Regions from separate parts of the Homo sapiens genome. Here region 2 is linked to region 1. Evidence: fine-mapped expression QTL. A gene starts in region 1. The other region holds a variant in brackets. All regions are shown on one strand. Distances are from middle to middle.

What was found. PIP is the estimated chance that this variant, and not a neighbour inherited with it, causes the effect.
Region 2: its variant is fine-mapped to the expression of SMANTIS in whole blood (INTERVAL, PIP 0.92).

What each region holds. Positions count from the first base shown.
Region 1 is chr2:69,797,633-69,800,556 of GRCh38, reverse strand. SMANTIS (SMARCA4 interacting SWI/SNF chromatin remodeling complex scaffold lncRNA) reads left to right here and starts at 1,559. Exons shown (of 3, transcript NR_164155.1): 1 at 1,559-1,769. The region is part of intron 3 of ANXA4 (annexin A4); the gene reads right to left.
Region 2 is chr2:69,924,757-69,927,680 of GRCh38, reverse strand. All of the region lies in intron 3 of MXD1 (MAX dimerization protein 1), which reads right to left. Among named protein-coding and RNA genes, the nearest start is that of MXD1, 11 kb to the right of the region's middle. RefSeq lists an enhancer at 250-544. The variant AC/C (reference allele first, on the strand shown) is at 1,754.

The DNA of each region.
Region 1 (2,924 bases):
TGCCCCTCCTGTCACTGTTATATTATGAATTAATCATAGTTATTTTTGTGCATGCCTTAGCTGTGCTAGTATTCATAGACTATTTGAACACAAGAACTAGGGATTATAATCCTTGTCTTCTCCAACAGTCTGCCTTGCATTGGCCCACACATAACAGGCACTGAAAAGGGGTTGGTTGTGCCAAATGTCTCCTCACCCTTTATGCTGATAATTCTGAATGTAACATGGGCTACATTTTGAATTATGGTGTCCTTGTAACCAAAGAATTAGGATAAACTGAAAAAAAAGGTGGGTCCTATGCCTTTCTCTTTTTATGAAAAAGGGAAAAGAAGAAGATACATAGATTCAGGACAATGTTCTCTTCAGAGATGGGCAGCAGCATAGAACAGTGGCTTGAACTCCAGCTCTGGAATCAGACTTGAGGCAGCTGATCATGCAAAGATGAAAGGAAAGTGTTCTAGGAATTATCTAGAATCCTGAATATACCACTTAATAGTTCTGAGACCGTGGGCAAGTCAGCCAGCCTCACTCACTATACTTTACCTTCTCAACAGTAAGACAAGCTTCTGTCAGGATTAAAACAGATAACCCATGGAAAGCATCTATCTCTATGTCTGACACATAGTAGAGCTTAATAAACATTTTCTATTATTGCTACGGTTGTTGTTACTGTTAGCAACATTGAGGCTGAGTAAAATGAATTCTTTTTGGATAGAAAGATGGTCTCATGGTCAAGTGTTTTTACCCAAATCTCAAGGAGATTCTAAATAGCAGCTAAGAACCAGGGGATACTTCTCTGGCCAAAAGTCTACTGAGACAAGGTCTTGGGGGCAGAGGCTAGGCCAGGTAGTTTGTGGTGCACATAGAATCACTGTACCTACCCAGCATGAAGGTGTTGGCCCCCAAGGAGCTAACTGGAGGGTAGCATGCTGGAAGACACTACCAGTGTTATAGGAGGCAAAAAGAAATTATTTAGGTAGACATTTAGGGTAAAGTGAGTCCCCAGCAGAAAACTTTCCTTTTAACAAAAAGCAGCTCAAAAATAGCTCCCTTTCTAACCACACACAGTTAAAAAAAATCACTTCTCTTCTAACAACAAGTAACCTGAAAGTTCAGGCTGTAAAATACAGATAAGACAGCTCAAGCACAGAAGAAGGGGTGGAAGTCTCCTGGGTAATTGCCAAACTTCACACTTATACAATGGGCCCCAGTAAAACAGTGGGTCTTAATAAGCACATTCCTTTCCCTTTAGGTGCACTAAGATAGAGAAACTAAAAGCAGACTCATGGGGCGGATGCCTGCAGCTGCAAGAAGATGTATGGGAACAGACACAGAAACTCTCCCTCCCAGATAAGCAAGACAAAGAAACACAGACTAAGAGTCAGCCTATGTGGTCAGGGAATGGGATAAAAGCTGATAAAAAAAATTCTGCTCTATATAGATAGCACACTTGGTCGCAGCTAAACCATCAGGCCCTAAGAGGATAAGACATCCCCTCCTCATGAGGCCCCTCCTCCCTAGACCATTTATAAAAACCCTGACATTTTTACTACTGCTTAGCAACCTGCTCGGGACCCCTCTCTGTGACTGTGAGCTGTTCTGTTCTTTTGCCTATTAAACTCCTGCTCCAAACTCACTCGATGTGTGTGTGCATGTCCTTGACCTCAATATCTGGTCGTGTGACCAAGAACCTCAGTATTCACCCCAGACAACAAGGCTGCTTCATTTTGAGGGCTCGTCTGGGATTTGAAGGTGACTTCATCAGAATGGTGAGTAAAGGAGCGGACTCTACTTTCACTTCCGAGGCTTCTTGTCCTCCGTTTTTATTCTCTCAAATAACTATCAAAAACACCGGGCATCTGACAGCTGATTAAGGAGCCACAAGGGCTGGCCACCAGTCTTGAAGACTCAGATGTGAGGCTTGCTGGGGAGGACCTGCCCTCAGGGTGCCGGGAATGTTGGCTGTGTCCAAACTAGTTTCTTTTCACAGAAAGCCTGGTTGTTGTATGGGGCTGGAATAGGTCCTGGAGCAACTGAGAATTTCTGGCCAGGGCCACACCCTGGTGTTATTCAAAAGGCTCCTGGACTGACCCCAGCCTCTGATTGCCTGACTGGGTGTCAGCCATAGGATCTCCAAGTTTTCCTATTGCAAATCTTATTTTCCTCCTTTCCTTTCTGCAGTCACCATGTCTCCCATCTCCTCTCTGTATGCAATGCTGCAGGAATTTTTATAGCCCAGGAAATAATTCAATTAGGCAGGTTTAGCAACCACCGTAGTAACCAGGAATGCAGGTTAAGGGATTGCTGTTTTTCTGACTTTTTACAGACAGGGGAATTCCATGATCCAGATCTCAAAGACTATTTAACTCCTAATGATAATACTTCCTGGGGTTGGGTGGGAGGTTATTTTCCCCCCAGTAAATGCCCCTCTGTCCACTTAGGCTGTTTCTTTTCCCATGTGAGGAACCAGCACTGTCCAGTCGGACCGGATAGCCCCTCTATGAGGCAAACTAACTTTCTCCTGTTAGGAGGTATGCTGTGGGGACAGCATGCCACAGGTCAGACTTCTCTCTCCATCCTTTGTTTAAAGAGCATATGGAGGCAAAGTTACTGCCTGGTATTCCACTAGCACCACCTAGTAAAATGGGAATCCTCTCCATGAGGAATCTTGTCTGCCCTTTGCTAAAAGTCTCTGGCTTTTCAGTTCTCCTCCCTTTTACATCCCTCTAATAGAGACCAAACCTTATGCCCCCTCTGCAAGTGGGAGAACTCTGCTTTCAGCAGCAAGGAGGAACATGTCCTCCAAAACCAAATTTTAGTCTCAGTACTCTCTCTGTTAGCAGGAAGGCCACCATTTGACCCTTACGTTCTCTGAAGACACCCATTCTGCCTACAACTAGAATGGCATCTAAATAGAAAGGGGA
Region 2 (2,924 bases), 130 kb before region 1:
CTAATTTTCAAATACAACATATATATTATAATCATACCTGTTGGCTCTATCCCACTATTTGACTATTAATGCCTATGACAAAAAGTAAGGGAATAGCCCCAGGGTCCCAGGTAGGAGACTGGAAATTGGTCAAATGACCAGCATGTGTCTCTCCTCCAAGTCTTGCCAAAGGCAGGTGTCATCTACTCAAGGGTTATAGTACAAGGAAGATGATTCTTGTGGTACAAATGTGAGTTCTTCTCCAGACCATCAATATAGATTGGATTTATACACTGATCGCTGTGTCTCTCCTTCGTAATAACCTTACCCCATGTTGCAACAAACATGGACTTGTTACAACATCCCAGAGTGAAATCTGAATGTGGTCAAGAAAGTTCAGAAACAATAAGAGTGATGCAATGCATACCACAACTCAGGCCCAGTGCAAAAGTCAGGCCCCAGCCCTTCCCATATAAGGGACTTGGTCATTTGAAAAATCAAAACCCAAAAGGAACAACTATAGGGACCTGTAATCAATTAGAATATTCTTCCAGAAGAGACCTGACTGAATTGATTTCTCATGCCAGACCAGATGCCACTGAAATACTGTTTGACCAAATGGAAATAACAGCTTAGATTGGGCTGCAGAGTCTTCCCCATGGAGCACACACAGAAATCTTCTGTCACAGGGTCAGAAGACTCTGGCAGAGGTAGTAGCTCTAGACCAGGCACCTAATTCTAGCAAGAGCTGCATATGTACCACTCCAGAAAAATGGATGTCTACTATTAAAGGAGACGCCAGAGCCATCTTTTGAAAAAAGAGTCTATTCTACCACCTGGCTCCTGACCTATTGGCTGTAGCTTATATGTGTTTGCTCAGTCTCCATTTGCTGAGGGATTCATTGAAAGGCTTTGTTTTAAATTGGAGGAATTCTCAGTTAAGAGAAAGAAATAGCAGAATTATCATCAATAAAGGGTATGTAACAACAAAAGATTCAAATATGTTTATATTCCAACAATAATCAATTAGTTAACTAAGATGGGAAACCAATAGCAATCTAAAAATATATAAATCCAGGAATACCTTTTACAGGACATGTATAAGACCTGTGTGGAAAACTTTGCTACAAAACTTTGCTTAGAGACAGAAGAGAAATCTGAATAAATTAAGGCACATACCAAATCCTGGATGAAAAGATCTAATATATAAGCATGAACTTTTAAAGGTTAATTTATATTGGAATTATGCAATGTCAATTTTTAAACTCCCCAAAGAATTTAGGGGTTGGGGAATTCACAGATTAAAATTTTTTTCAGGAAAAATAAACTGGTGAAAATAGATAAGGGCATGGAAAAAAAAAAAGGAGAATGAAAGGGTATATATTGGCACAGGAAGAAGAGATGGATCAATGGACTGGAAGAATAAGTCTAGAAAGAGACTTAGCCATAAACAAAAATAAGTATACACCAAAGGTAGCAACTTGAATCAGTGAGGGAAGACTGATTCTGTATAGCTAAATGATAAACTGGACAGTTATGTGATAGAAAAAGTGTCAATATCTTTCATATATGTCCTTTATATTATGGAAACTTTTTAAAATAAAGAAAAAGATAAATTCTTTAGTAGAAAATTGGGCAAAGGCTATTTAATAGACAATTCACACAAAGAGACACACAGAGTCAAAGACATAAAAATTGTTCAACTATGCTAGTAGTATGAGAAATGCAAATTAAAACAAGTTGCCTGTGTGTTTTTTTATTTTTTACTTATCAA[AC/C]TCATAAAGGTTTTAAGTTATAACATCAACTTGTGAAGTGCAGGGAAAATAATGCCTGTAACCTGCCTGGTGGACAATCCAGCAATCCTAAAAACGTGTTCACCACCAATTCCATAGCTATACATTTATCCTAAGGAAATAATTATGATGTTGGACAGAGATTTTTCTACAGGTGGTTTAAGAAAGCATTGTTTAGGTTCTGGGAAGAATCTAAACCAGGGGACTGATTATATGAGGTTTAACATATTCATATAATATAATACTGGGCATTAAGTAATGTTGAAAAAGGAGATTTAATGACATTGGAAAATGTTTATAACTGGAAAAGATGCTACAAATTATTACTATATGATCCCATGTTGGTTAAAAAAAAGTACACACAAAAGTCTAGATGGATATAGAACAAATGTTAGCAGGTGTTACCTCTGAGAGGCCTATTACAGGTGATTTTTATATTCTTTGTGCTTTTCTGAATTTTCTAACTTTCTACACAAAACTATATTTTCAGTTCTTTTCCAAAACAATTGGAAAGATATATTTTCAAGTTCCATTGGTTTTCTCTGAGTGCTAGAACTATGGACAATTTAAATTTTTAGTATTATTTTCTATATTTCTCAAAATTTTCTGCAAGATTAGTTTAAAAAAAGAAAAGAAAAACCACACACACACACACACACATACCCCACCCTCCCAAGGGTGTTTTCTTAGGAGATCAGACCCAGAAAATTAGCTAAAATGCAGAGAAACACAGGCCATGTGCTGACTGACAAACCCCCTGTAGAGTGATATTAATCTGAGCTCCTCCACAGCAGTGCGTAGTCTTTACTGGATTCTGTAGTCCCAGCACCTACTACACGGCATCTTAGGTGCTCAACACCTATTCTGTTGAGTAGAAAATACTACCACCACCACCATTCTAGAAGTCTTTTCTTTTATTGTCCCACCAATGCGAAGATACTTCAAAGTGTTGGTGTTGGGTATAATATCCTTACAGTGGAGTCCTGATAACATAGAGTAACACTAATTATTTACAATCTCTAAAGTGCCATAGAAAAGGTTTCCATTCAAGAAAACTAACCCAAGTATAATCAACTCTGCAATATCAAGAAAAGGGAAAATCCCACTGTTAGAAGTTCTTTTCCTAAGTTGTCTTTTCTTCTTCTTCCTTTT